4 linked regions of the Homo sapiens genome follow. The protein of the gene in region 1 interacts with the protein of each later gene in a pairwise test. Each region holds a gene or a part of one and is shown in the gene's direction. Other genes may lie near its edges. The genes, in order: DZIP3, UBE2R2, UBR3 and BIRC3.

Region 1 (7,967 bases):
GTTCTTTGTAATTTCCTTACTTTTGTTTGCTTTAGGTTTAATTTGCTTTGATTTTTTTTTAAGGTGAAAGTTTTGATCATTGATTCGAGACCTTTGTTCTTTATAAACTGATTTTACATTAAGCATTGCTTTAGCTGCCCCATATGTTTTGATGTGTAGAAATTTATTATTAATATTTTCAGTGTATTTTAAATGTTTTCTAGTTTTGTGTGTGTGTGTATGTTTTAACCATGGGCTCTTTAGGAGTATTTGTTTAATTGCCAAATGTTTGGGAATATTTCAGCTCTCTTTCCAGATATTCACTTTTAGTTTAATTCCTTTGCAATAATTTATTTTATGATCATACTACTGTATATCTTGGTGAATGTTCTACTTGGATTTGTAAATAATGTGTCTTCTGATCTTGAATGAAATAGTCTGTACATTAGATGAAATTAGTTTACAGCTCTGTTTCAGCATTCTATGTCATTTTTGATTATTTACTTTTTCTATCAGTTACTCAGGGAATGTTGAAGTATACTATTCATTTTTTTTTTGTCTACTGTCTAATTGTATATCTAGAAACTCTTATTAAATGCTACACACACATCTAGAATTGTTACCTTTTTTTTTTTTTTTTTGACAATTTGACTCCTTTATTCTTATTTAACATCCTTTTTTTTTTTTTTTTGAGACGGAGTCTCGCCCTGTCACCCAGGTTGGAGTGCAGTGGCACGATCTCGGCTCACTGCAATCTCCACCTCCCAGGTTCAAGTGATTCTCCTGCCTCAGCCTCCTGAGTAGCTGAGACTACAGGTGCACACCACCACACCCAGCTAATTTTTGTATTTTTAGTAGAGACGGGGTTTCACCACATTGGCTAGGATGGTCTTCATCTTCTGACCTCGTGATCCACCCTCTTCGGCCTCCCAAAGTGCTGGGATTACAGGCATGAGCCACCATGCTCGGCCTTAACATCTCTTTTTAACCCTGATAATATTCTTGCCTTAAGTGTTTTTTGTCTGATATTAATATAGCTACTCCAGCTTTCTTTTGATTAGTGTTTGCATGGTATATCCTTTTGCATCCATTTACTTCAACCTATGTATTTCTTTGTAGGTGGCATAGGTCTTTGTTGTTTTATATATACAATATGACAATCTCTGCTTTTAAATTGTTTTTTTTTTATTCCATTTGTATTTTCTTTACTAATTTATATGGTTGGAAATCTACTGTCTTCCTTGTTGTTTTTAGTTTTCCCTATCTGTCTTTATTGTTTATTTTCTGGTTTGGTTTATTAGTTTTACCCTTTTTTAGTGGTTGCTTGAGGACTTACAATACATATTTTTAACTTGTCAAAGTTTATTTTAAAATAATTATACCACAGCATGTATAGTGTAAGAACCTTGCAATAATAGATTTCCATTTCTTCCCTCTTTTGTGCTATTGTTTTCATATGTTTTACTTCTACTTACTTTATAAATTACATAATATATTGTTACTTATAAGTGTAGTTTAATTTTTTCTGTTTTGAACATTATATATGGAAACATTTGTTTTATGCATTTTAAAATCATATTTAGTGTGATTCCATTCTTACTATTATAGTTGTAGTGTTTTCATTTTTATTGCTCTAATTTTATATTATTGCTTCACTAATTTAATTATTCTACCATTAACAGATGTTTATTTCTAGGTCCTGGCTATAACAATAGTTTTGCAGTGAACACTCTTGTACATGTCGCTAGGTCAATATGAGCAGAAAATTTTCCAGAATATATACCTAAAAGTAGAATTGCTAGGCCACCTGTGTATATCTATAACTTTACTAGCTTTTGCCAAATTGTTTTCCAGAGTGGTTTTACAAATGTACACTCCCCACCAACAGTATGGGAGATACCTTTTACTCAGTATCTTCCCCAATAACTTCATATTGTCAGAGTTTTACATTTTTTCAATGTAATGTGCAACTAACAGTGTTATAGTGGTACTGGAGATAGAATCAGTTAACAATAACAACCACCACCAAAATCCCTTTCCTCATTAAGCTTACATTGTAGCGTTGTTGTCCAATATTTTTTTGTTTTGTTTTCCGTGGTTCATTTCAAAGCCAAGCCATCTGTTTAACGGCAGCATTTACCTAGTGCTTAGTCTAGTTAATACATTTTGCTACTTTATTTTTTATTTTTCTAATTATTTGTATTGATGTTCTACTAGCATCTTTATTGTTTTTAATCAGTAGGTGTTAAATGAGTTGGGGTTTCTTGGAATAGTTATTGCCAAAAATATTATATGGTGAAGAGAGGGCCAGGGAGGACTTCCAGATTTGCTATTTTTTTGTTTGCTTGCTTGCTTTTTTTGTCTTACAATGCAAAGCTTTCTTTCCTTTTTTTTCTGCTACCACACAGCCTTTTTGCAAGGAAGTTTGTAATGTGATAGTTTTAGTATGAAATCTGGCAATACTGCTTACTTGATAATTCCAATGAAAGTGACAGTGTAGGGTTTTCATTGTTGGTGAGCTCTATTTGTTCATTATTTTTTCTCCTTCTTGAATTATTTCTAGGAGAAGATGAAAATACTCACTTAGCCATGCTCATACTAGAAATCTTGACTGACTTTGGTATTATTTTATTTCCACTATAACTTAATTTTTTTCCTTTTGCAGTTATAGAAAGTTGATATCTCTGAAAATAACTGATACTGATATAAGACCGAAGATCAGTTTAAAATTTAATACAAAAGGTATTATTTTATTTTTATATGCCTTCTGTTGAAAAGTATGTTAAAATTTTTGACTTCTCTGTCAACTTTCATGCCATTAACAACCACGTCTTTACTGTGTTTGTCATTCACTGAGCTTGGGTTTATACCAGCAAGCAGCGCTTGGTGTAGGCTGGAAATCACAGACAGGAAGATCAGCACATCTATGGATCTCACATTACCTTGACATCCTATAGAGAGGCATGCTAGGTCTGGTGCATAGCTGTGACTATACCGTGGGATTGTGTTCCAGCAGAGGTTTTCTACCAACTGTTCCTTCCCTTGCTGCATTCCTTCTTAATAGAGCAAGCATTAGAGTACCCTTACATGAAAGGAATGAACATTTTGAGTTTGAGGCCAAGTTTTGAGGCTAAGTAATCTAAACTAAGCTGCCAGCTTCTTAGGAGTGTGCTAGGAAATGTCCTGCCCAGAACCTGGAGGCCTTAATTAAGGGACCCTGGGCCCATAGAAGAATAGTTTGGTGGCAGTCCAGCCAACTTTTTATTTGGTAACCCAAAGAAAGCTCCCTGTGTCATTAGCTTTTTAACTTGCCTCCACAATGTATATCAAGTATTTCAAGCAAAAACGTTAATTTAATAAATCTCTTGAAACATAGAATCTTGAAGGATAAAATAATAAGGCTGCATTTTGTGACAAACACATATTTTGATATCCATATAACACCAAATGCCATTATATACTAAATTATTAGTACTTTCTAATTCACTTCAGCCGACTTTTCTCCTTTGAAAGCACTGTTAAAACAGGAAAATACCAAATAGTTCAGTTTCATGCCTTATTCCATGTTATTGATGAAATACCTACTTATCTTTTTTTGAGGGGGTGAGAAGATGAGGTTTATTAGATCACAGTTTCTCAAGCATTATACATATATTTGAAATATCCGGCAATTTTGTTAAAAGGCAGATTTCAGTAGGTCTAGAGTGGGGCCTGAGACTGTGCTTTCCTAACAGGCTTTCAGGTGGATGCTTGATGCTGCTGGTCTCTGGGCTACCCTTTGAGTAGCAAGGAGCTAGATCTTTTGGCATTTCTTGATATAGATCTGAGCTATCTAGTATAGCAGTCCCTAGCTGTATGTGGCTACTTAAATTTAAATTAATTAAAATTAAATTTAAAATTCAGTTCCTTAGTCACCCAAACCGCATTTCCAATGCTCAGTGAGTATTAGTGCAAATATAAAACATTTTATCACATGACGTTCCATTGGGCAGTGCTGATTAGGATAAAGTATAATTGTTTAAGTAAAGTATAGTTAGACATTGACAATTAGCATTCTTGGCAAATTTCAGAATTTTTAAAGACCTAATACTGTGATGCCATGTTGTTGCTAAAGGTCATTTACTTGAACAAAACCTTGGATGACTGAAAGACTTCTGTGGTGATTAGTCTTTGTTATTACTTTTGCTTGGGAACATGTTGTTTTTGTTTAGGTTTTTTGACAGGCAGAAAGCAGCATGCTAATTGAGCACTGGCTGTGGCAAAGCACTGTACTATCCTTCATTCTTTTGGAATAGTTTTTATCCTACAGGAGCTTAGGATACAATGTGAGAGACCAAATAGAAAATGAGCATTAATGTGGAATGTCTTGACTTCTCAAAATTTATTTTCAGATGAAATGCCTATCTTCAAGCTTGATTATAATTATTTCTATCATCTGCTTCATATAATTATTATTTCTGGTACTGACATTGTTCGACAAATATTTGATGAGGCTATGCCACCTCCTCTTTTGAAAAAAGAGCTTCTTATACACAAGAATGTGCTGGAATCCTACTACAACCATCTTTGGACCAATCATCCTTTGGGTGGATCATGGCATCTGCTTTATCCTCCTAACAAGGAGTTACCGCAATCCAAACAGTTTGACTTATGCCTCCTGTTAGCTCTTATAAAACATTTAAATGTGTTCCCTGCACCCAAAAAAGGATGGAATATGGAACCGCCATCTTCTGACATCTCTAAATCTGCAGACATCCTGAGACTGTGCAAATACAGGGATATCCTCCTTAGTGAGATTTTGATGAATGGTCTCACTGAGTCACAGTTCAATTCAATTTGGAAAAAAGTTTCAGATATTCTTCTGCGCCTTGGGATGATGCAAGAGGATATTGACAAAGTGAAGGAGAATCCCATTGAGAATATCTCCCTTGATTACCATCAGCTATCTGTCTACCTAGGCATACCAGTACCAGAAATCATACAGAGGATGTTATCCTGCTATCAACAAGGTACTAAATGATTATTTACTTCAGCCAATAAACTTCCATTGATTGAATGTCTGCTCTGTGCCAGGCACAGTGCAAAGGGCAAGAGATTCAGTGAGCTCATGGTTTTGGGAAAATGGACTCATCAGGAAGGTAATAGAAATTATAGTGCTAGAGATGTTTCCAGAATACCATGGGAAATCCTAGGCTAAAGAAGTCCAAAAAAGCTTTCTGGAGAGTATCATAGTTAAAGAACTATTAATGGTGTGCAGAAGTTAGCCAGGTGAAGCAGACTGAGAAGAATGTTTCAGAGGGAAACAAAAATAAAGGTATAGAAACATAAAAATATACTGCAGGCAACTAAAAAATGTTGGCTTCATTGAGATTAAAGTAGGGGAGAGTTCATAGAGTACATTCAAGAGGATTTTTTTGTCACATTAAGGAGTCTGCATTTTTCAGAAAGAAATTGTTGAAGACTTTTGAGTACAGTTTTATCACTTTAAGTGGAGTTTTATTCTCCAAAATTAATAAAGTTTAAAACCATGACATGTAAGTACTGTGTGGTTTCAAAGATGTTCGTTTAGACACAGTGTGGATGTATGTTTCTTCTACTTTCTAGCAGAATCTTGTTTAGTTTACAATTTTAGCAGCTATTCATTGGCTGTAGATAATTTTAAAAATCAGGTAACATTCATGCAAGTGTTTGTATTGGCCACTCCCAAACTTGTCTATTGATACGGAAAAGACTTCAGACCTCCTTTCCCACATCTCAGGATACCTTCTCAGCTATTCTTTTGGAAAGCAGAGTTCAAGGCATGACAACATCTCTGAAACCCTGCTGTGCTATTCAGGATGACTTCCTGGTCTCAAGTTATTTACAGCCTAATGAACAACTGATAACCACACTGATGCTATATAAACATACAACTGTAAAAGTTTCTAGTGAACTGGTCCAGATTTTCTTCAGAGATAATTGATGTGCCCAATTTCAGTCCTGGTATTTACTAAGGCTCTGGAATACCTTTGTTTTCTTGCATAATCTAAGAATGAAAGAGGAGGACACTGAGTTTGATATATAAGAAAGTCAGGCAAGAATTTTTGACTTATAAATTAGGGTTTTAAAAAATACATTTACTCTATTAGGATTTTAAATAATTCATGAGAATAGAGTATTTGAGAAAGAGTTTTGAGCACCCATTCAATTCAAAGCATTTTAAGCAGTTCTTACTCAAGTACACTGAAGAGCTTATTGGTCAAGTCCCTTTACTAGAGGCTTTCTTACCATCTTATATTTCTTTCCTCAGCTATTCTAGTTGCTTTTTATTTGGATATCTGATAATTTGATTAACATCCATCATCCCACTAAATCTCCATGAAGATTGTCTTTTTTTTTCTTCACCATTCAATCTCTAGAGCTTAACACAGCCTGATGTACATTGTAGGTGCTCAATAAATATTAATGGGCAAGGAGAGCAAGTGATGATCAGATAAATCAGATTGCTAAAAATAGGTCCCAACTTTCAGTGGAGGTTTGCTGTGTAATTAACTATTATTTCATGGCCTTAGATGGTAAACATAAATATTCGTTGCTTGGTTTAAAGTGCTTGTGTTCTAGGCTTTATCTGTGATACCACATTTTTGTTTACTTTTTTTTCTCTAATCATGGGTTTATAACCTTTATGTGATAATCTAAAGATTGTGCCTTGTCTAAACTGGATTGATGAGCAAAGCTGGTTATTTTTCCAGTTACTTACAGAATAAATTGGTGCAATATAAAAATATTCTGCCTTAATCCTAGCCAGACATTCATTTGTTGCGTTTGCAATTGTACATCTAAAATTTTTCTTTATGTATTATAGGAATTGCTCTACAGTCAATAACAGGCAGTCAGCGTAAGTATATTTAGAAATAAAATGTGTAAATGACTTTTTAACAAGGGATACCTATGAAATTTTTATTTGTTCAGATAAACTAAATGATAAACTATAATTGTGAAGAACTTGGGCCAGGCGCAGTGGCTCACGCCTATAATCCCTGTACTTTGGGAGGCTGAGGCAGGTGGATCACAAGGTCAGGAGATCGAGACCATCTTGGCCAACATGGTGAAACCCCGTCTCTACTAAAAATACAAAAATTAGCCAGGTGTGGTGGCGGGTGCCTGTAGTCCCAGCTACTCAAGAGGCTGAGGCAGGAAAATTGCTTGAACATGGAAGGCAGAGGTTGCAGTGAGCCAAGATCACGCCACTGCATTCCAGCCTGGGCGACAGAGCGAGATTCAGTCTCAAAAAAAAAGAACTTGGAAAATGATGTGATCAAATCACCACTGGTCTGGCTGAATCGAGAATGAGCTTTATTCTGCCTTTGGCTTAGTGCATGTGCTTCAGGGTTTTCCCAAGGATGATGTTCTAACGTTTTACTCACAAAAACTTCAGCAGGCAAAAATACCTTCCTGCTTTCTCTGTTTGGTGTTTAGCGTGTATAACTTTATTTAGTCTGTCTATTGTTTATAGCTATATACTTTTTTTGCCAGGTGATAAGTTGTAATTGTTTAATTTCCATTTTTGTGCTATTTTTTTTAAGTGTAATTAATATTATTCAATTAAAATTATACTTAAAAAAAACACCACCACAGATTTGTTTGGGATAAAATGCTGGACTCTCTGGAGACCAGTCAGACAAAGTCCACAAGTTTTGAGACTGAGTCTCTGGGGCAATATCAAGGAGCAAAGTCTCAAAGAAAAGGTCACATAATAGGGGGCTCACACCCCTCTTATGAAAAAGAAAACAGAAAAAATAGATCTTTTGTCTTCTTTTTCTTTATATTTCAGATATATGTGCTAAAATAATACTAGTTGCATTATTAATAGGATCAAGGTCAGGACATGCAAAAAGTTAGTATTTAGAGTCTACTTATGTTCTAGAGTATCTAATATCTAGAGTCTACCTAAGATTCCAGTAGGTAACATAGCACTCAGGTTCACACTGATTAGTTCCAGGCTGGTG
Region 2 (7,967 bases), on another chromosome or scaffold:
CGTTTGTAACACCCACTAGATTTGTAAGCCATGGGAGACCAGGGATGGCATCTAACTTGCTCACCATTGTACATCCAGCATCTCACTTGGTGCCTCTGGCACACAGTAGGTACATAGTAAATACTTTTGAATAAAGATTTCTATTATTCAGAGACTCTAGTTCTTCTGTTTGAAGGATTTTGCTTTTCCTCCATTCTCCTGCATTACTCTGTCTTCCTTCCAAGTATGGAAAAAATACATTTGGATGTAGCACTGTTTTTCAGGTTAAGAGGCCACAATAAAAACTGGTTATATAGGGCCAGGTGCGGTGGCTCATGCCTGTAATCCCAGCACTTTGGGAGGCCAAGGCGGGCAGTTCACTTAAGGCCAGGAGTTCATGACCAGCCTGGCCAACATGGCGAAACCCTGTCCCTACTAAAAATACAAAAATTAGCCAGGCGTGGTAGTACAATGCCTGTAATCCCAGCTACTCAGGAGGCTGAGACAGGAGAATTACTTGAACCCAGGAGGCAGAGGTTACAGTGAGCTGAGATGGCACCACTGCACTCCAGCCTGGGTGACAGAGCAAGACCCTGTCAAAAAACAAAACAAAACAAAAAAACGGCCGGGCGTAGTGGCTCATGCTTTTAATCGTAGCACTTTGGGAGGTTGAGGAGGGCGGATCACCTGAGGTCAGGAGTTCAAGACCAGTCTGACCAACATGGAGAAACCCCATCTCTACTAAAAATACAAAATTAGCAGGGCATGGTGGCAGGCGCCTGTAATCCCAGCTACTCGGGAGGCTGAGGCAGGCAGGAGAATCGCTTGAACCTGGGATGTGGAGGTTGCGATCACACCATTGCACTCCAGCCTGGGGAACAAGAGTGAAACTCCATCTCAAAAAAAAAAAAAAAAAAAAAAAAAAAAAAAAACCTGGTTATATAGAATAGCATCATTTTTACCAGCTCCCACATCAAGATTGCCTTGAAACTAAATATTTTAAGCTTTTTCCCCCATGCCATTTAATTTGTAATTTTTAAAATAAACAGTATTTGAAAGCTTCTAAGACATCTGCTTTCTGTAGGTTGGAACATGTGACCAGTTGAAACAGGGCCTTCTATCAAGTTCATTTTTATGCTTTGTGCATTACCCTTATACTAGAATCACTTGTGCATTACCCTTATACTAGAATCACAGATTTCCTCTGCTTTGCCTGCCAGTTAGCAGCTTGTTTCTTAGTGCTGAAAAAAATTTTTTTTTATTTTTCTTAAATGCCTTTTATGAAAACTATCAATAAAAAATTTATATCTCTATTCCCCCAAGGTCTTAAATTTAATTGTATCAGAAAAATTTTAAGGGAGGGAGAATTTGAAATCTGATTGTACTATCTTAAAAAGCAGAATACTTTTAAATACTGTAAATATGGGTATTCATAGCTGATCCTTTTTTCCTGTTTCTAGGACTATCCTATTAAGTGTAATCTCACTGCTTAATGAGCCCAACACCTTCTCCCCAGCCAATGTCGATGCTTCAGTTATGTTCAGGAAATGGAGAGACAGTAAAGGAAAAGACAAAGAATATGCTGAAATTATTAGGTAAGGTTTTTTTTTTTATTACCTCAAGTTATACAAAACCAAAATATATTCTGGAACCAAGGGTTTAAATCAAACTTAAATATCCTGTCCATTCCAGGATAATTTTCCTCTATTAGATTTATAGTGTGGGAAGAGAAGATTTCTGCCTGAGCCTAAAGAACTTTGCTGTTTACCGAGAGAACAGCCACTAGAAGATAAGGCAGTAGCAGACCTGATTTTCTAGGAACCAGAACTTCTAGGTTCTGGCCAGGCATGGTGGCTCATGCCTGTAATCCCAGCACTTTGGGAGGCTGAGGCAGGCGGATCACCTGAGGTCAGGAGTTCGAGACCGGCTGGCCAACATGGTGAAACCCTGTCTCTACTAAAAATACAAAAATTAGCCAGGTGTGGTGGTGCACACCTGTCATCCCAGCTACTCAGGAGGCTGAGGCAGGAGAATTGCTTGAACCCGGGAGTTGAATGTTGCAGTGAGCTGAGATCACACCACTGCACTCCAGCCTGGGCGACAGTGCGAGACTCCATCTCAAAAAAAAAAAAAAATTGAATAAATAAAGCCTTCCAGTTTATTGGCATTCCTGACCATAGCAGCAAGGATTGTTTGGAAATCCTCATTATCAGCAACACTAATGTATGGTATAACAGAGCCCTAGAATAAGATTCAGGGGACTTGGAATCTACTCATGGGACCATTTATCAGATAATTTTTGGGGTCTTTTACTTTCTCCTCTGTATAAAATGGAAAAAAGCTTAACCTTTAATCTCTTAGGACATCAGGTTCTTATAATAGTACCCAAGAAATTTGCAATAAATACAAACCCTACACTTCCCCTACCCTCCACCTCTTTTTTATTTGTTTCTAATTAATTTTTTTTTTCTTTTTGAGATGGAGTCTTACTCTGTCATCCAGGCCGGAGTGCAGTGGTGTGATCTCGGCTCACTGCAGCCTCTATCTCCTGGGTTCAAGCAATTCTCCTGCCTCAGCCTCCCGAGTAGCTGGGATTATAGGCGCCTACCACCATGCCCAGCTAATTTTTGGATTTTTAGTAGTGACAGGGTTTCACCATGTTGGCCAAGCTAGTCTCGAACTCCTGACCTCATGATCCACCCGCCTTGGCCTCCCAAAGTGCTGGAATTACAGGCGTGAGCCACTGCACTCAGCCTCCTCCACCTCTTTTTAAAGAAACAGACATGGTCTTACTCTGTTGCCTGGGCTGGAGTGCAATGGTGTGATTACATGGTAACTTCAAATTCCCGGGCTCAGGCAGTCCTCCCACCTGGGCCTCCTGAGTAACTAAGACTATAGGCATGCACCACCACACCCAGCTAATTTCTATTATTATTTTTGTAGAGATGAGGTCTTGCTGTGTTGCCCAGCCTGGTCTTGAACTCTTGGCCTCAAGTGATCCTCCTGCCTCAGCCTCCCAAAGCTCTGGGATTATAGGTGTGAGCCACCGTGCCTGGCCTCCACCCCCCTTGATATTACATTTTTATTTCTTAAAATAGAGACCCCAAATACAGTTACAGCTTCCTCTGTGCATAGGAGTTGACTAAGCATTGGCATTTATACAAATAAGAATAAAATCTAGTTGGCTTGAGACCATGTGATATGAAAAAAGTTAAAACAATGCTGGGAAAGGACATGAGGTGACTGCTGAGTAATATAAAATCAGCAGTTCTAAGTTTTCTGCCCATTGGGATCACTTTTAAACTGTCCCTAAACAATAGCTGTCTTTTATGGGATTACAAGGACAGAGTTTGGGCATCTGTGTGTGTATATATATCTCACCTAGGTGACTGATGTGTACCAAACATTGAAGATAATTAGTAGAAATATTAAGATCCTACAGAAATTTAGAGGAGTGGGAGTGTACTAAGGATTGAAAGATCAGAAAGCTTAGGTATACATATTCCCAAGGTACTTCTATATATTTCTTAATTTGTTTAAGGGTCCGTTTATCTCATTCTATCTATTCCTTAATGACCTAGTACAGTACCTGACACTAAGCAACAGCTTTGTGTTAGGTACTCATTAAGGCATAGCCTGTCTCCTTAGGGAGCTCACTTTATTAGCATTTGAAAACAAATGACCATGTAGTATTATACCTATAGAAGCCTAAACAAGATACACTGGGAGAAATATATAATGTAATAGATTTCCTAGCAGAGATAATTCCTTATAACCAATACTTTTTCAGGTGAAAAAAGGGAAAATACCCATGTTTGCTAAAATACAGGAGTATAACAGCATGACATGTTAAGGGGATTACAAATGCTTGAGTGTAAATTCTGATGTGGGAAATATTAGAAAATTAAGCAAGAGAGGCACCAGGGTCTTCAAAGACATTGAAGTCATGATAAGAGTATGGTTCTTAATGTAAGAAGTGATGGGGTACCACTTAAATATTTTTGGGAGGGAAGAGGTGATGCTATTTGAGTTCTGATAAAAGAATTGGCTGCCTGGTGTGGTAGCTCACACCTGTAATCCCAACATTTTGAGGCGGGTGGATCACCTGAGGTCAAGAGTTCGAGACCAACCTGGCCAACATGGTGAAATCCCATCTCTACCAAAAAATATAAAAGTTAGTTGGGCATAGTGGCACACACCTGTAATCCCAGCTACTCGGGAGGCTGAAGGCAAGAGAATTGCTTGAACCCGGGAGGCAGAGGTTGCAGTGAGCTGAGATCGCGCCACTGCACTCCAGCCTGGGAAACAAAGCAAGACACCGTCTCAAAAGAAAAAAAAAAAAAAGACAGTCAGCTGGGCACAGTGGCTCACGCCTGTAATCCCAGGACTTTGGGAGGCCGAGGCGGGCAGATTGCTTGAGCCCAGGAGTTTGAGACAAGCCTGGGCAACATGGCAAAATACCATCTCTACAAAAAAATTAGCCAGGAGAGGTGGCTTATACCTGTAATCCCAGCTACTTGGGAGTCTGAGGTGGGAGGATTGCTTGAGCTCTGGAGCCAGAGGTTGCAATGAGCTGAGATTGCGTCACTGTGCTCTAGCCTGGGTGACAGTGGGAGACCTTGTCTCAAAAAAAAAAAAAAAATCAAATAGTTGGCCAGGGGACCAACATGGACTAAACTGAGGTAGTAGTAATGGGGATGAGGGGACAGATATAAAAATATTTAAGCTGTAAAGCAATAGGTCTTTGGAGTGAGATTTATTATTTTAAGAAGCAATGCTCATTTATTCAGAGAAGTAAAATGGGAGAAACTGTCCATAGAGGTAGAAAATGCATATGCAGTCTACCTCTGCATATGGAACATTAGGACAGAGGCTTCCAAAAGGCATTTGTTTATATAAGCCAAGAGCTGTCAGCATAAAGGGAGTGGTGGTTAAAATTATGGGAACAGAGATGATGTCCCAGGGAGAGTGCTGAGAGTGTGGAGATTGAAGCCCAGAAGCCTCAGGACCATCAATATTCAAAGCAAGGCAACAGAAGAAAAGCTTCAAGCACAACTAAGAGATTGACATTAGGAAGATCAGGAAGAGTGGTCTAGTCTTGATGACTCAAATTTTTATAATTGTTGAAGGAAACAATTTATTGTTTGTTCATTCATACAATCAGTATTTATTGCACACCTCTTATGTGCCAGGCTATGTGCTAGGCACTGACTGGGGAAATGGGACTAAGAAAGACATTTACGCTCACATTCAAATATGTGGAGACAGAAGAGTGAGCAAGCAAAAAATACTAGATAGTGCTAAGTAGGATAATGTGAAAGAATGACTAGATGGCTGCTTTAAATTGGGTTGTCAGGCCAGGCCTTCTCTAAGGTGATATTTAAGCCTTAATATCTGAGGCCGTGATTCTGAGTGACAGGAAGGAGCCAGGCATGTGTGGGGCAGGGGAAGAGCAACTGGTCCAGACAGAAAAATCAACAAGGTGTGTCCGAGATGCCAAAAAAAGACCAGGGTGAATGTGTTGAAGGGCTGGAGAAAATACAAGAGTGGGTCATGTGGCCGGGTGCAGTGGCTCATGCCTGTAATCCCAACACTTTGGGAAGCCGAGGTGGGCAGATCATGAGGCCAGGAGTTCGAGACCAGCCTGGCCAACATGGTGAAACCCCATCTCTACTAAAAATACAAAATTTAGCCCGGTGGGGTGGCGGGAGCCTGTAATCTCAGCTACTTGGGAGGCTGAGGCAGGAGAATTGCTTGAACCTGGGAGATGGAGGTTGCAGTGGGCCGAGATCACGCCGCTGCACTCCAGCCTGGGTGACAGAGCAAGACTCCGTCTTGGGTGGGGAAGAGTGGGTCGTGCAAGACACTGGAATCTGGCATAGGCATTTGAATTTTACTGTCAGTGAAAATTAAGAGGATAATTAAATTAAGAATTGTTGGGGCACTTGAGTTTGGTGGTGAGGTGACTAGGCCAAAACCCTAGCCAATCCCCTAAGCACCCCACCCCACATTAAACCAGAGTGGGACGTTTTATTCACATATGCAACCTTTATGATCTAGCCCCAAGAAACTAGGAGGCGTATTAGCCCTTCTATTATCTATTCTTATTCTGGCAGTTATCCCTGTGCTTCACACATGCAAACAACAAAGCATGACATTCCGCCCACTAAGTCAATACCTGTTCTGATTCTTAAGTCGCCGACCTATTGGCCCTTACATGAATCGGAGGACAGCCAGTTGACGAGGTGATTCTGGCTATAATTGATCCACTGCTTTAAACTCCCTTGATATTAACAGTGTATTTCCCCTCCTAAAAAGTCAAAGTTTACTTCAAAATTGTACCCAGTGGGTTGAAAGCATTTGGTGTAGTACAGGGTATCTGTCAGATGCTTTCAGGCAGGTACTGAAGTTTGGAGAGCTGAGTCATAAGTAATATTGATTATTTAAGGCCAATTATAAATCTGTCTTAAAAAAAGACTTACCGTAAACCATTTCTGTGTCAACCTCCCTTCAGGAAACAAGTTTCAGCCACTAAGGCCGAAGCAGAAAAGGATGGAGTGAAGGTCCCCACAACCCTGGCGGAATACTGCATCAAAACTAAAGTGCCTTCCAATGACAACAGCTCAGATTTGCTTTACGACGACTTGTATGATGACGACATTGATGATGAAGATGAGGAGGAGGAAGATGCCGACTGTTATGATGATGATGATTCTGGGAATGAGGAGTCGTGACGTGCTCCTTCAGTGCCCCTGTACTGCCCTGCCATCTCAGGCCAAAGGGAGGGGAGCAAGTGGGGACCTGGCCATGGCCCCTCAGCAAAAACCTATTCACAGCGGGTGGGGAAACACACACAGCTCCTGCTGACTCCCCTTATGGATCTCAGTTTGCTCCTTTTTATGGACCTTTAATGGAGAGAGAGTAACCCTCCACAGAATGTCTGAATTCTTGCATTCTTTACCCTTCCATCACTATATTGATTCTTTTTTTAAAAAATATGAACCCAAACTCCCGCCTCACTTCGTCTCTACAGAATGTTCACAGCAAAACACGTTTGGTCTGTTTTTAGATTCTTGAAGAATTCAATAGTCTTTCAAGATGTTTAATGTGTTTAAAGCTGGGAACCTGTTGGGAGTTCACAAGTGCTGCATATACTGGGTAGCAAAAGAAAATGGAAAAAAACCCACAAAACAAACTTTAAAAAAAAAAAAAAACAAATTTGCCAAGGTTTAGCTGCTCATTTACATTAGTGTGTGTGCATTCGTTCAGCCCCATGGTGGTGAATTCTGTTTCTTTCCTTTCCTAAGGCTGGGACATGGTGGGCATCAGGGACTTTGTGCTAAGCCTGATGAAATGTGCTCCTTCAATCTCCATGAAACCATCGTAACATGGAGGCCTCAGCTGCTCTGAGGAGAGAAATCAGACTTTGTTTTTTGAAATCGATTGGGATCGAAAGCCTGAAATAAATATTCATACTTTCCATAGAACTGAGCACTTGGTTGCTATTTATTTTAAAGGCAGGGTTATTTCCCCCCAGGGAGTGGGGCAAGCGGGGAAGTTGGGATGAGTGCGTGTGGGAGCAAAGAGTTAAAAATCACTATGCTAAGTTTGGTTGATGCTACTGGGGGGAAAAAGTTGAAACTACTGGTGACCACTGTTGGGAGAGGAAACATCTGTTTTATAGATTTAGCATGGCCTTCCCATCAAAAATACACTCGTACCATGACGTTTTGTTTTTGTTTTTTAAGTAGCCACTTTTAATTACTCAGTATTAATCCTAGGTGCATGTGTTAAGATTTCGGTTTTCATCGAGCTGCTTATACTGATAGTGAAAAACTTGGATGTGTGTGAGACGAGTTACCGCCTTCTTCATTGGATGTGATCTGAACTTTTTTTCTCCTTTCAACATACTTAGGCTGTGGAGTGCAAGCAGAATTATGCATAGAAATTGTGGCAGGGCTGAGGGAGTTGACTGCAGGCAGTTTTTA
Region 3 (7,967 bases), on another chromosome or scaffold:
CATATAGAGGGTAATAGGAGATATGTTAGTCAAGGTTCTTTTAATGCAAGGGGAAAAAATAATTTAAAGCAGCCTGAGTTAAAGAAGCAGTAATTTCATGTCTAAAACACCAAAAGCAATGGCAACAAAAGCCAAAATTGACAAATGGGATCTAATTAAACTAAAGAGCTTCTGGACAGCAGAAGAAACTACGATCAGAGTGAACAGGCAACCTACAGAATGGGAGAAAATTTTTGCAGTCTACTCATCTGACAAAGGTTCATCCAGAATCTACAATGAACTTAAACAAACTTACAAGAAAAAAGCAAACAACCCCATCAAAAAGTGGGCAAAGGATATGAACAGACACTTCTCAAAAGAAGACATTTATGCAGCCAAAAGACACATGAAAAAATGCTCATCATCACTGGCCATCAGAGAAATGCAAATCAAAACCACAATTAGATACCATCTCACACCAGTTAGAATGGCAGTCATTAAAAAGTCAGGAAACAACAGGTGCTGGAGAGGATGTGGAGAAATAGGAACACTTTTACACTGTTGGTGGGACTGTAAACTAGTTCAACCATTGTGGAAGTCAGTGTGGCGATTCCTCAGGGATCTAGAACTAGAAATACCATTTGACCCAGCCATCCCATGACTGGGTATATACCCAAAGGGTTATAAATCATGCCTCTATAAAGACACATGCACACGTATGTTTATAGCGGCACTATTCACAATAGCAAAGACTTGGAACCAACCCAAATGTCCAACAATGATAGAGTGGATTAAGAAAACGTGGCAGATATACGCCATGGAATATGTGTATATTCCAGCCATAAAAAATGATGAGTTCATGTCCTTTGTAGGGACATGGATGAAGCTAGAAACCATCATTCTCAGCAAACTATTGCAAGGACAAAAAACCAAACACCGCATGTTCTCACTCATAGGTGGGAATTGAACAATGAGAACACACGGACACAGGAAGGGGAACGTCACACACCAGGGCCTGTTGTGGGGTGGAGGGAGGGGAGAGGGACAGCATTAGGAGATATACCTAATGTTAAATGAAGAGTTAATGGGTGCAGCACACCAACATGGCACATGTATACATATGTAACAAACCTGCACATTGTGCACATGTACCCTAAAACTTAAAGTATAATAATAAAGTAAAAGCAGTAATTTATTATGAATACATAGGGATGTCTCAGGGTTAGGGCACCTGGACCTCAGGGATGGACTGGAAATCTGAATAGGAACTCCTGTCGCCTGCCTTTGCTTTGCCCTGAGTGTATGTGCCTCATTTTTTCTTCCCTTCCTGTGCTTTGCCTATGTGGTGAAATACTGCCTTTTTATAGTTGCCTAACGTTACCATTTCAGGCATACTCCCAGATTGTCTGTGAATGTCTCTGAATCCTAGTTCAAATTTTTTAAGAGAGAAAGTCATTGCTCAAGCGGGGGTAGATGTCCCCTGCCCTGCCTCCAGTCAAGTATGGCTACTATAAACTTGACTGTCAGGCCCCAATCTCTGTGTGTGGTTGAGGTGGCAGAGAGTGGGAGAGGGAGACACATTCTGAGAAGATGGGAAGGTTGTGAGCTAGGCAGACACCACAAAAGGTGTTTTATGCAGGATAATGGTAGAAGTAGGGGTTATCACTAAAATCTAGGCACTAGGTGTTGAGGGCCTGAGCTAAGGTTAGTTAGGTGCAGTGTAGACAGAAAGAAGAAAGTGGATTTAAGAGATACTTAAAAAATAAGTAAACATAATTTGATACCTCATCAAATATAGGAGGCTTGTGAGAAGGAGGAAGTCTACATTTCATATTTAAATTACTGGGAATCTGGAGAAGAAATATTGAGGAGGATTGAGTTTTATGGCAAAGATACTGAGTTTGGTTTGGACACGCTGTATTTGTGGTCCTATGGAATATTAAGTATTGCTGTTCAGTAGACACCTGAATGTAAGATTTGGAGTTCAGGAGTGAGATTTCCACTGAGATTTGGAACTCATCTGGGTAGAGTTAGCAGCTGAAGCTGTGAATCTGGATAAATTCACATAGAAGACTATAGAGTGAAGAATGGAATCCAAGGACTCTCAGTATATATAGGAATAGAAGAAGTGCTTATCAAGTAGCCAGTCTGTGACATTAGACAAGGAAGGAATATGGACTTTAACGTTATGGAGAATGTGAACATAGGATATGCTAAAGCCCTGAAAGATAAAATAGGGTCCATGGCTTACTAGTTAATAGCAATATGTACTGGGTACTGTGCTGTTTTACTTATTTCTCGCAGCTACTAAACTCTTTATTATTCCTACTTTAAGGATCAGACAACTTAGGCACAGAGAGGTAACTTGCCCATAGTTTTACAGCTGGGTGGTAGAACCAGGATTCTGCACTTAGGAAGCAGGCACAGTGGTTCACGCCTTTGGTCCCAGCACTTTGGGAGGCCGAGGCAGGTGGATCACTTGAGGTCAGGTGTTTGAGACCAGCCTGGGCAACATGGTGAAACCCTGTCTCTACTAAAAATACAAAAATTAGCCGGTGTGGTAATACATGCCTGTAGTCCCAGCTACTCAGGAGGCTGAGGCAGGAGAATTGCTTGAACCCGGGAGGCAGAGGTTGCAGTGAGCTGAGATCGCGCCACCGTACTCCAGTCTGGGGGACAGTGCGAGACTCAAAAAAAGGGTCTGCACCTAGGCTGGGCCTGGTGGTTCACGTCTATAATTCCAATCCTTTGGGAGGCTGAGGCGGGCAGATTGCATGAGCCCAGGAGTTCGAGAGCAGTCTGGGCAACATGGCAAAAACCCTGTCTCTACCAAAAACAGAAATTAGCCAGGCATGGTGGTGTGTGTCTGTAGTCCCAGCTGCTCAGGGGGCCGAGGAGGGAGGATGACTTGAGCCCGGGAGGTGGAGGTTGCAGCGAACTGTGATCGTGCCACCATACTCCACCCTGGGCCACAGAGTGAGACCCTGTCTATTTAAAAAAAAAAAAAAAAAAAGAGTCTGCACTTATCCACTGTGCTTAGTGCCTCAAAGGAAATTGAGGGAGATTCTGACTTAGCTAGTTAGTGTAGAATATGTTACTAAGGCGATTATGGTAATGGAGGGCAAACTTTTTAAAATTTTATTTTTAATTGTGGTAAAATACACAGAAAACATAAAATTCACTATCTTAATCATTTTTAAGTGTATAGTTCAGTAGTGTTATGTGTATTTGTATTGTCGTGCAGCCAATCTCCATAACTTTTTTATCTCATAAAATTGAAACTATACTCATTAAATAGCTACTCCCCATTTCCTCTTCCCCCAGCTTCTGGCAACCACCATTCTACTTTGTATCTCTACGAATTTGGCTGCTCTAAGAACCTCATATAGGTGGAATCATATAGTTACTGTCTTTTTGTGACTGGCTTATTTTACTTAGCATAATATCCCGAAGGTTTATTCATGTTACAGAACATTGTTAGACTTTCCTTTCTTTTTATGGAGGGCAAACTTTTATTTATTAGAACAAATTTTTATAGCCTTTACATATTGAAGAGGATATTATTATCTTACTGGTTTTGAAAAAAATAATTATTTCAGGGATGGTGACATATTTAGACTCCTTATAACCTCTATAATGTAAATTATATACATTAGCATAATTATCTGAATGTCCGGGATAAACATTTTTAACAAGAGAATATTTAATAAGAACTTAAAAAGCATTAAAAACAAACAATACCTTTTCAGTTCTTAACTCATTTGTTTAAGAAGGACAGCTGTGGTGTATTTTTGCCCTGTAGTGATTTTGTGATCCATGGGATTCACAGATTTAAAATACAGTTTTTGTAATATTTACAGGAATGCCTAAGGTCATTCACATATTTTTTATGAAGTTTTGTTATGGAGGCTGGTGCGTTTGGTACTGTTTGGAAGCATCTTATCTAACTGGTGAAGGAATCTAACGATGCCCTGCATTTATACCTCTGTTTAGGGATGTGGTCAGAGTCTTCTTACAGTTTTGAATATGACAGTGGAGTCCAGATTAGCTCCCCAGTTCACTACTTTTGAACTTTAGGAAGTTAGTTAAGTTTTCTAAGTTTGAATTTTGCTACTTGTAGAATGAGAATATTAGTAGCTCCTACCCCATAGCATTCTTCTGAGGATTAAATGTGGTAATGTGAATAAAGTGCTTAGCATGGTGACTGGCACATAGGAAGTGTTCAATGAATGTTATATGTGACTGTTATTACTGTCATGATGTTTGGTATACATGCGTTTGAAGAGTCCCAAATGGTCTACTGTAGCTGGAAATCCATTCCATCCCTTGTTTTAATAATAATTATTTGCTTTAGCTGAATTGAATTTAGGAAATATTAATCTGTACTGGATGCTTCAGAGGATTCAAAGTTGAGTAGAATACAATTTCTGCCTTCAAGAAACTTATACTTAAGTGTTTAAAATGGAAAAATTTTATCTATAGTGATTTTGGAATCTGCATCTTCTAAAATGTTAAGTTTTGAACTAAAAGTATAGGAATAAATCCAGGTGAGAGTATGGTTTAAACATTTTACAACCATCTTAAAATTTCTATAAAATAGTCTTTGACTTGTGCATTTTGTTTGTTTATTCCAGCCAGCACCTAACCAAGTCACTTTTCATCTGCCACTACATCGTTACTATGCTATGTTTTTGAGTAAGGTAAGACTGTCATTAAACAATTCTGTTCTTTTTTTTTTAATTTTCAGAAATAAGAATTGAATTAGTAACTTTTTTATTGTAATTTTTAGGCTGTGAAATGTCAAGAACTAGATTTGGATTCTGTTTTACCAGATCAGGAAATGTTAATGAAACTAATGATTCACCCACTCCAAATTCAAGTATGTATTCAGGCATTTAAAAAGTTTTGAAGTGGATTCCTTGTTTAAGTGATTCTTCCTTTATTTATATGCCTTTCATTGTTATTATAGCTGAGATGTTTGAAAACTTTTTTTAAAAAGTTGTTATTGTATTTTTGCTAGATTATGTTTAGGTATTTTTCATTTTATGAGATTTACTTTTTAGTTTTACTTTTTCCAGGAATTCTTTTCATGATATTTGCTTATGGGGTGGTATTTAACATACTATATAGCACTGTTTTGGGAGTCAGGAGATCCAAAAGATTCTAGCCTTGGTGCTACCACTGTTTTATTTTCCGCAAGGTTTAAGGTAATTCACCTCCTTGATTCTCAGTTTCCCTATCTGTATAGTGAGAGGAGAAAGAGGAGAGAAGAATTAGCTTATATAAGCACTGTGATTTCTTTTAATACCAGCAATGTAATTTGACAGGCCAGCTTTTTATATACATTAGAGGGACTTGCACTTCCATTTGTTTTTCCTGGCAATTTTAGATTTGTTAATTATTATAATATTGAACTTGAACTCTGGGTGTTAGGAAACATAAAATTATGACTGCTTGAAGCCAGGTGTGGTGGCTCACGCCTGTAATTCCAGCACTTTGGGAGGCCAAGGCGGGCAGATCACGAGGTCAAGAAATCGAGACCATCCTGGCCAACATGGTGAAACCTTGTCTCTACTGAATATACAAAAATTAGCTGGGCATGGTGGCGTGCACCTGTAGTCCCAGCTACTCGGGAGGCTGAGGCAAGAAGAATTGCTTGAACCTGGGAGACAGAGGTTGCAGTGGGCCAAGATCGCGCCACTGCACTCCAGTCTGGCGACAGAGTGAGATTCTGTTTCAAAAAAAACAAAAAAAATGATGACTGCCTAGTTTTAGTTGACACTGGACATAAATACATGAAGAATTAAATACTGATGTAGTGAGAACATTTATTCTAACCTCCAATATTTGGAAAATTAGCAGTATAGATTTAAGATTGAGTTAGGGTGAATTAAAGATGTAGAATGTATTCATTGACTTTGAACAGTTGGTTTTATTTTATGCTTATTCTAGTGTCTTTCTTTAAACATGTATATTAGGATTGTTGTTGTTGTTACTTAGGGTTTTCTTGAGGGAGAAATAGAGTGAAACATAAGCATTGATTTCTTATGAAAGATGTCAGTGAAAATCATCATAAATGTATCCAGAGGCCAACATGGAAAACCAACTCATTTGTTTAAACTCTAAAAAAGTGGCTATGTAAAAACATAATTATTGTTAAAAAAAATGTAAAAATGTATATTTCAACTGATTATCTTTAACATTGGACAGAATATCGGGCTTATACTATGATCACATCATTAAATATTTTGAAATGGTTATTTATAATATTTTGTAAAGATTGCATTTAGATAATTTATTCTTTGTCCAATTTACTTTTATTAGGCAAGTCTTGCAGAAATCCACAGCAATATGTGGGTAAGAAATGGTCTGCAAATCAAAGGACAAGCCATGACGTATGTCCAGTCTCATTTCTGTAATTCCATGATTGATCCTGACATTTACCTGTTACAGGTAAGCCAGCTAGATAATGCAGATATACTTTAGAAGTGTCTCATTTGTACCCAAGGGATTTTAATTTATAGAGGTGACTGCGTGATGACATGGAGAGGCCAATGCCATTGAAAGAATAATTTTTTACTTACATTTCCCAGGAGAAGAGGCATACCACCCAACACAAGGCTACAAGGAAAGCACCAGATTTTGGTCAAGAGGCAGAAAGGAGTGAGGGGAGAGCCTAGGCCAGAGCCTTTATTGGGGTTTCTGCAGGAAAGGCAAGGAAAGGCAAGGCAGGATTGGCTAATTTGAATAATTCCAGCAGGCTTTGAGGCATAGGGGCTGTATCTGGCTCTGCGGTACCTGGCCCTGGGTTGATTTAGGGGAGGGGAAATACTGGGTTGATGTGTGAGAGTTAGATAAAGACAGTGGTTGGCTTGCATGACAGGCATTTTCCCAAGTAAGTTGTTTAGTATGTTCAGGAATTAACTGGCTCTGGGAGGGACTATCTGTCTTCAGGTCTGTAATGCCCCTCAAGATGTCAAAACATCATAATATACAGAAAATAAAAATCATAGCCAGGCGTGGTGGCTCATGCCTGTTATCCCAGCACTCTGGGAGGCCAAGGCAGGCAGATCACTTGAGGCCAGGAGTTTGAGACCAGCCTGGCCAACACGTCGAAACCCTGTCTCTACTAAAAATACAAAAATTAGGCAGGTGTGGTGGCACACACCTGTAAATCCCAGCTACTCGGGAGACTGGGGGATGAGAATTGCTTGAGCCTGGGAGGCAGAGGTGGAGGTTGCAGTGAGCTGAGGTTGCACCAGCTTGGGTGAGAGTGAGACTCTGTCTCAAAAACAAAAAACAAAAAACAAAAAACAAAAAAAAGTATAGAAAAACATGATTAATAGAAGAAGGAAAACTGAATATTGAGAAATAAAGCATTTTGTTTTCTTTTAAAGGTTTGTGCTTCTAGACTTGACCCAGATTATTTTATTTCATCCGTCTTTGAAAGGTAGGCATAATTTTATTAAGACAGGTATTAGGAAGTGTCCAGTTAATTTTGTTTTAATTTATAAAAATATGTTTCAAATATTTCTTCTTGTAGATTTAAGGTAGTGGATTTGTTGACAATGGCATCACAACATCAAAATACAGTACTTGATGCAGAGCATGAGAGGTCGATGTTAGAAGGCGCTCTTACATTTCTTGTGATTCTTTTGAGTCTTCGTTTACATTTAGGTAAAACTCACTGATACTAATACTTATGCATTAACTGTTTTCCTCCCTTTCTCCCCCTCCCTGTGGTAGTAACTGGCTTAGGGAAAAAAGGAAAGGATGTAGATAAATGTAAACAATGTTTCAAACTCTTGATATGTTGTACTGTAGGTATACCTTTTAGAATATCCTTTGCTTAAGGGAACTGCAAACAGCAGTTAAACTGCAGTTATGTTTGGAGCATAGCTTCTTTACTCTTTAATTTGAAGCATCTTATATTTGGTAAAACAGCTTAGTAAAAAGTGTGGTAAGTTTTTTTCTTTATAATTTATGTA
Region 4 (7,967 bases), on another chromosome or scaffold:
CTTTGTTCCATATAGTTATCCATTTTGAACCTGGAGAAGACCATTCAGAAGATGCAATCATGATGAATACTCCTGTGATTAATGCTGCCGTGGAAATGGGCTTTAGTAGAAGCCTGGTAAAACAGACAGTTCAGAGAAAAATCCTAGCAACTGGAGAGAATTATAGACTAGTCAATGATCTTGTGTTAGACTTACTCAATGCAGAAGATGAAATAAGGGAAGAGGAGAGAGAAAGAGCAACTGAGGAAAAAGAATCAAGTATGTAGATTTATTAATACAGTCTATTTTCATAAGGATTTGATATCAGTCTATATGTTATGAAAAATATACTCATCTAGCATATCTGAAAATATACTCAATCCAGTCAGGTTTTTTTCATGTTTAGTATTCTGAATTCAAATGCTGAAAAATTTATTCATATTCAAATATATTTGAGTTGCTCATAAGTCAAAAATGTATGATGTACAAAAGTATTTTTCATGTTTTTCCTTAATTCATATTTTTTTCTCTGGATAGCTGACGTTGTGTCCAATTATGCATTCATGGCACATTTTTTTTTTCTTAACGCTTTGAAAATGGAATCCTTGTTGCATCATGGCACATTTTTAATCCCAGGCTAGTTGCTCACTCCCCTTTGGAGTAAATCAGGGTGGGATCAGGGACAATTATTAATTTTTTTTTGAGACAGTCTTACTCTGTCACCCATGCTGGAGTGCAGTGGCATGATCTCAACTCACTGCAACTTCTGCCTCCTGGGTTCAAGCAATTCTCGTGCCTCCTTCCCTTAGCTGGGATTACAGGCACCTGCCACCATGCCAGGCTAATTTTTGTATTTTTAGTAGAGAAGGGATTTCTCCATGTTGGCCACACTGGTCTCAAACTCCTGACCTCAAGTGATCCGCCCGCCTCGGCCTCCCAAAGTGCTGGGATTACAGGCATGAGCCACCGTGCCTGGCTGGATGGTTATTAATTTTAATGTTAGCATAAAAGCATGTCTTAGCCTGTGACTATACATTAATACACAAATTACTATTAAGTCCCCTACCTGTCCACACAAGAACTGAGTCTTCCAGAGCATCCGTCGATTATTTAGGCAAGTCCTAGTATACTGTTTCACAATCTCTTAGGACAAGTTGTTCATGTCCTTCCATACTAAACGTATCCACTATGTTCTCTATTGCCCTTCACAAAAACTCTTCTGGGCACATACATTCTCATCTGGCTGTTTTGACTGCTATCATCATTCTGTCCTAGACAAAAAGAAATGCTGATCTCTCCTTTCCCAAGCATGGACCAGACCTATAAGTCCCTTCAACACAGCTGAAAACAGACTGCAACTTTTAACAAGCTCTTACTGGAGACTTAAGGAAAACGGAAGGGAATTATATCACAAATGTTGATTTACAGCTGCAACTAGCTGTGACCTCTCTTAGTGCCCCCGGGCTCATCCTCATAAATCTCCCCTGCCTAGCTTCTGGTTCATCTCTGTGTAGCTTTGGCAAGTTTACACAAGTCACTAGGAATGTCCCAATAATGTTTTCCTTTATCAAAATTCAGGCCCCCCCAATATTCATAAAGCTCAGAAGGAGAATAAAGATTTCTCCTTATCCTTGTGCAAGGCCATCTGGGATCTATTTCTTCACAGGATGATTGACAGTCAGATTGTCCACTTCATTTAGGGATAAATCCAACCCTGCCCATGAAGATGGATTTGTTCTCTGACCCAACCCAGACAAACCTATCAGACCATAGTGATATAGCATCATACATTCACCAAAGTGTGAATTACTCAGTCTATAAACCACTAGTGTAGCAGCAATACAGTCACGGTTAACCTTTGCCCAGCCTCATCAAATTCTCTTTTCTCTGTGAAGATTAGGCAAGCATGTCCTTCCTGTAGCCTTCTTAGTGGTAGCCATTTGTCATCAGCCAACAATTGCTCAAAGAAGAGAACACTTATCTCCACAACTGTTGAGAGACCCCATAAAATCTAAAACTATCCACTTATAAAATATTTATATTTCTTTCAAAGACAATCAGAAAAGTCTCCAGAAATGACTTCAAGTCAACAATATATAATAATTTACATTGTGAAAAAGAGCCCTTAGCGTTTCTGCCTCACCATTATATATATATCTCTACTACCTAGTATCGTGCCTGCATATAGTCTGTGTTGTGAGTGAGTGAATGAAAACACATTTAGGTTAATGATTACGTTATAGTTTCCCAAGAATAGTAGGGATATAAATAAAGAGGTAATTTAAGATTTTTTTTTTCCCAGAATAAAATAATAATATGGCTGAGTGTGGTGGCTCACACCTGTAATCACAGCACTTTGGGAGGCTGAGGCAGGCAGATCGCTTAAGCCCAGGAGTTCAAGACCAGGCTGGGCAACATAGCAAAACCCTGTCTGTATAAACAAATATAAAAATTAGCAGGGTGTGGTGGCATGTGTCTGTAGTCCCAGCTCTACTCAGGAGGCTGAGGTGGGAGGACCACTTGAGCCCAGGGAGGTTGAGGCTGCAATGAGCTATGATCATATGCCACTGCATTCCAGCCTGGGCAACAGAGTGAGACACTCTCTAAAAGAAAAAAAAAAAAGAAAGAAAGAAAAGCAAAAACAAAATTAATAATATGCTTCAAAGGCAACTACTCAGGAGGCTCAGGTACAAAAATAGCTTGAACCTGGGAGGCAGAGGTTGCAGTGAGCTGAGATCGCACCGCTGCACTCCAGCCTGGGTGACAGAGCAAGACTCTGTTTTAAAAATGAATAAATAAATAATAAAAGAAATTTTATGGAAGAATGATACTTTAAGAAAAAATTGTTTTAATTCAGGCTGAATGTGGTGACTCATGCCTGTAATCCTAACACCTTGGGAGGCTGAGGCAGGTGGATTGCTTGAGCCCAGGAGTTTGAGACCAGACTGGACAACGTGGCGAGACCCCATCACTACAAAAAATTTTTAAAACAAAGTATTTGTGATGGTGTATGCCTGGTAATCCCAGCTACTCAAGTCTTCTGAACTTGCAAACCAGAATATAGTCTACAACTTTGAAATGAGACTTTTTCTCAGTTACTAGCAATTAAATTTTAGAAATCTTAAGAACTTCAGAGAATGCATTATATTAGGTTACGTATAATTACAAAAATAAATCTTAGATTGAAAAACTAGTATACTTCAACACCAAGTTTGTATTTTTATTTTCTAATATATCCCTACTTTGCTAATAGAAATAATTTAACAAAATATATTAAGTTCTAAGTCTTCTACCCCTCTCACCATTACTTTTCATTCCTACTCTTTAAATTATAGAACTAAGGTTTGATTGTTCATTTGTTCAACAGATATTTATGGAGCATTAACTTTGTGCCAGACACTATTCTAGCTCCTGACCCTTTTCTCATTTATTCTCAGAGCTTCCATTATTTTCAAAATATGTCTTTAGCCTTGTCTTTTTGACTAAGCATCATCTTTATTTTCTGGTTGTTGTTTTTGATTTTTGCTGTTTTCTTTTTTCCATTTTTTATTCTTTCTTAAATGGTTCTTTTTATGAGTCCTATCACTTGACAAAGTCAGTGTATCTAAAATCTAACAATCCTCTCTCCCAAAACAATTCTTCAGATAGCTCAGCCTCTGTCATTAGTTATTTTTTAGAAACAGCTTTATGGATTATGGTAAGCTATATGAAAATTAATAAACTTAGATTCATAAGTTATATTCCAAAGAGATAATAAAACTGCAGTTTTAAAATATAAAATGTTTTACCAATGGATACAAAATCTAGGTCTTGAAGGAGAATTAGATGATATCTTGTAGGACGAGAAGGTAGTCGTTGACAAATAGGGTTTATTATTCAAAATGCTGTTACTGCCTTTCCCTGCTTACTATAAAATATTTAGGTAATGGCAATATGTCTAATTTCTGGAAATAATTAAAATTTCAACTTAAAATGGAATTTTAAAGAAATTTTATGGGCCGGACATAATGGCTCACACTTGTAATCCCAGCACTTTTGGAGGCCGGAGTGGGCGGATCACTCGAGGCCAGGAGTTCGAGACCAGGCTGGCCAACATGGTGAAACCTCATCTCTACTAAAACTACAAAAAATTAGCTGGATGTAGTGGCACATGCCTGTAATCCCAACTACTCAGGAGGCTCAGGCACAAAAATAGCTTTAACCTGGGAGGCAGAGGTTGCAGTGAGCTGAGATCGCACCACTGCACTCCAGCCTGGGCGACAGAGCAAGACTCTGTTTTAAAAATGAATAAATAAATAATAAAAGAAATTTTATGGAAGAATGACACTTTAAGAAAAAATTGTTTTAATTCTCTTGATTTTGTCTTTCCCCAATTTGACTAGATTGAATTGAAACGTCAATTTTAATGGGTTCTAAGTTCCATTTGGTTAAAGGCTTAGCAGTATTGCCAAATGATTGAAAGCACAGTACATGACACCAGACTACCTCAGTTTGATTTTTGCTAGTTGTGGTGTCCTTCGGCAACTTAATTGCCTCACTGCAGCTTCATTTTCTCATTTGTTAAATGAGGCTATTAGGACCTACCTCAAAGAGCTGTTGTGAAGATGAAATGAATCAATACATGTAAAGTTCTTAACACAGTGCTCACTAAATGTTAGTCCTTACTATAAGTAGCATTATTATTATTATTATTATATTTTTTTAAGACAGGGTATTGCTATGTTGCCCAGTCTGGTCTCTGACTCCAGGGCTCAAGTGATCCTCCTACCTCAGCCTCCCAAGTAGCTGGTGCTACAGGCATGTGCCACTGCACCCTGGATTATAATTATAATAACATTATTATTAAGCAAAGGAGATGAGACACCCCTAAACCTAGCAATCAACATCAATGCCTTACTGATTACGAATTAAAGATAGTTTTTATCCTGCTATATATATAGGACTGGAAGGAAGTTTGTGAGCAGAGTTTGAACATGTTTATGCTTGTTTTCTTTTTTATAAAGATGATTTATTATTAATCCGGAAGAATAGAATGGCACTTTTTCAACATTTGACTTGTGTAATTCCAATCCTGGATAGTCTACTAACTGCCGGAATTATTAATGAACAAGAACATGATGTTATTAAACAGAAGACACAGACGTCTTTACAAGCAAGAGAACTGATTGATACGATTTTAGTAAAAGGAAATATTGCAGCCACTGTATTCAGAAACTCTCTGCAAGAAGCTGAAGCTGTGTTATATGAGCATTTATTTGGTGAGTGATAGAAAATTATTTTTAAAAATTTTCTAAGTCAATTGAAAATACGCTCTTATTAATAATTTATGACTACTGAAAATAATTCAGGCTGAATGTGGTGACTCATGCCTGTAATCCTAACACCTTGGGAGGCTGAGGCAGGTGGATTGCTTGAGCCCAGGAGTTTGAGACCAGACTGGACAACGTGGCGAGACCCCATCACTACAAAAAATTTTTAAAACAAATTATTTGTGATGGTGTATGCCTGGTAATCCCAGCTACTCAAGAGGATGAGGTGGGAGGATGGCTTAAGCCTGAGAGATAGAGGCTCCCATGAGCTGTGATTGTGCCACTGCACTCCAGCTTGGGTGACAGACTCTGTCTCAAAAAAAAATCAATCTAATTTATAGATATTAGTTACATAAAAAGATTAAAGACTTCTGTTGCCTTGAAATGAGTATTTGGCTATAGTCTAAAGTGTTCATTTTTAAAATAGATTCCATAGCTAAATATTAACCTTATTTGTCATAGTAATGCTTTTTCTTTTTCTCCCTTAGTGCAACAGGACATAAAATATATTCCCACAGAAGATGTTTCAGGTAATAGTACTAATATTTTAAATCAATAGAGAACATTGTCTTTATTTTCTTAGTTTTTCACTGAAGAAGCAAACTGCCTTTTATTAAAAATTCTTTCCTCTTTCTAGATCTACCAGTGGAAGAACAATTGCGGAGACTACAAGAAGAAAGAACATGTAAAGTGTGTATGGACAAAGAAGTGTCCATAGTGTTTATTCCTTGTGGTCATCTAGTAGTATGCAAAGATTGTGCTCCTTCTTTAAGAAAGTGTCCTATTTGTAGGAGTACAATCAAGGGTACAGTTCGTACATTTCTTTCATGAAGAAGAACCAAAACATCGTCTAAACTTTAGAATTAATTTATTAAATGTATTATAACTTTAACTTTTATCCTAATTTGGTTTCCTTAAAATTTTTATTTATTTACAACTCAAAAAACATTGTTTTGTGTAACATATTTATATATGTATCTAAACCATATGAACATATATTTTTTAGAAACTAAGAGAATGATAGGCTTTTGTTCTTATGAACGAAAAAGAGGTAGCACTACAAACACAATATTCAATCAAAATTTCAGCATTATTGAAATTGTAAGTGAAGTAAAACTTAAGATATTTGAGTTAACCTTTAAGAATTTTAAATATTTTGGCATTGTACTAATACCGGGAACATGAAGCCAGGTGTGGTGGTATGTGCCTGTAGTCCCAGGCTGAGGCAAGAGAATTACTTGAGCCCAGGAGTTTGAATCCATCCTGGGCAGCATACTGAGACCCTGCCTTTAAAAACAAACAGAACAAAAACAAAACACCAGGGACACATTTCTCTGTCTTTTTTGATCAGTGTCCTATACATCGAAGGTGTGCATATATGTTGAATGACATTTTAGGGACATGGTGTTTTTATAAAGAATTCTGTGAGAAAAAATTTAATAAAGCAACAAAAATTACTCTTATTCTTCATTGCTTTATTTCAATGACATTGGATAGTTTAGTCACTCCCAGACTCTTTCCATACCTTCTTAAAGCCTCTCAAATATTGAACTACAGTTTATACTCCTTCCCATAAGATGCTTCTTCATTGACACTTGTAGAACACGGGGTCAACACATCATAAAATCTATTATGGAATGCCTGAGACAAGAATCAAACAGTCCCTTTAGTAAGTTTGTTTATTCACTTCTCTATTGATTCATTCAAGAAGTCTCATGCCAGCCCCACCTATTGGAAGAAGGTCTGAGTTTTATTCTTATCTCTTTGGTATTAATTCTGAAACTTAGAAAGTACACTGGTTAGCAATGCTTGGGACCAACAGGTTGTTCTGGTAAATAAATCTGTTTCATATTGTCAGTGCAACAAAATGTCCCCCTCTGCATTATGTTATTGGTACTCAACACGTCCGAGTCATAACTCTGTCCTTTGCTTCTTATAGAGGTATTAGGTCTTCAAGAGCAGAAGTAAGACTGTAATAGGGAATACTCAGGGGAAGGCAGGCAAAGGCTAGTCATCTAAACCAGTTCTAGATGTCTGTATAGGGGCAGATGGCTCTGTAAGGGCAGAAGGGAAAGACCCCTTCATAAGGGTCACAGCTGACAATCCTATAACAAAAGACAGGTTAACAAGAGAAAAACTTAACAAATTTATTTAATCACAGATTTACATCACCGGGGAGCCTTCGTAATGAAGATCCAAAATTACAGGGGAAACTGTGCATTTTTATGCTTAGGTTTGATAATGAATGGACAGCCCTGAAGAATAGTGATTGGAAAAAAAGGATATGATCTAATGGGAATAGACACAGGTTGGGGACCCAGCAAGGCCTGTCTGTTCAGATTATTCTTGGTCTCTGTGCAGCATTCCTTCCTCCTGGATATAGGGCAGGGCCTGTATGGGATGGGGATATTATAACCTGCTATCAAGCAAGGTAGGTCAGAGAATTTATTTATGGCCAGCTCTTACATAGTTAGGTGAGGAAAGATTAGAGTACTATCTTTAAGATGTAAGTCTGGCATTGTGGAAAGATGGTTCCAGTTTCTATGACCTACCTTGGGGAAGAGGAATTCAAGTTTCTGTGGCTTGCCTTCAGGGAGAATGAGGCTGAGACAGGAGGGCAGGATAACATCAGAGAAAAACTTTGCTTCTGAGGCCTTCACTTTGGGTTTTCTGAGCCCC

What was found.
Region 2: the proteins of DZIP3 (region 1) and UBE2R2 interact in a two-hybrid assay, tested with the Homo sapiens proteins (one large-scale study listed by BioGRID and IntAct).
Region 3: the proteins of DZIP3 (region 1) and UBR3 interact in a two-hybrid assay, tested with the Homo sapiens proteins (one large-scale study listed by BioGRID and IntAct).
Region 4: the proteins of DZIP3 (region 1) and BIRC3 interact in a two-hybrid assay, tested with the Homo sapiens proteins (one large-scale study listed by BioGRID and IntAct).

Annotation. Positions count from the first base shown.
Region 1 is NC_000003.12:108,639,794-108,647,760, forward strand, and holds part of DZIP3 (E3 ubiquitin-protein ligase DZIP3), read left to right. Parts: intron 1-2,644; coding exon 2,645-2,721; intron 2,722-4,370; coding exon 4,371-4,988; intron 4,989-6,823; coding exon 6,824-6,856; intron 6,857-7,967. UniProt on the Homo sapiens protein: E3 Ubiquitin ligase proteins mediate ubiquitination and subsequent proteasomal degradation of target proteins.
Region 2 is NC_000009.12:33,910,525-33,918,491, forward strand, and holds part of UBE2R2 (ubiquitin-conjugating enzyme E2 R2), read left to right. Parts: intron 1-1,439; coding exon 1,440-1,574; intron 1,575-6,493; coding exon 6,494-6,713; 3' UTR 6,714-7,967. UniProt on the Homo sapiens protein: E2 ubiquitin-conjugating enzyme that accepts ubiquitin from an E1 ubiquitin-activating protein, and catalyzes its covalent attachment to other proteins by an E3 ubiquitin-protein ligase complex.
Region 3 is NC_000002.12:169,919,316-169,927,282, forward strand, and holds part of UBR3 (E3 ubiquitin-protein ligase UBR3), read left to right. Parts: intron 1-4,613; coding exon 4,614-4,679; intron 4,680-4,768; coding exon 4,769-4,858; intron 4,859-6,303; coding exon 6,304-6,432; intron 6,433-7,376; coding exon 7,377-7,429; intron 7,430-7,522; coding exon 7,523-7,656; intron 7,657-7,967. UniProt on the Homo sapiens protein: E3 ubiquitin-protein ligase which is a component of the N-end rule pathway. Does not bind to proteins bearing specific N-terminal residues that are destabilizing according to the N-end rule, leading to their ubiquitination and subsequent degradation.
Region 4 is NC_000011.10:102,330,984-102,338,950, forward strand, and holds part of BIRC3 (baculoviral IAP repeat-containing protein 3), read left to right. Parts: intron 1-15; coding exon 16-258; intron 259-4,982; coding exon 4,983-5,237; intron 5,238-5,776; coding exon 5,777-5,818; intron 5,819-5,925; coding exon 5,926-6,119; 3' UTR 6,120-7,967. UniProt on the Homo sapiens protein: Multi-functional protein which regulates not only caspases and apoptosis, but also modulates inflammatory signaling and immunity, mitogenic kinase signaling and cell proliferation, as well as cell invasion and metastasis.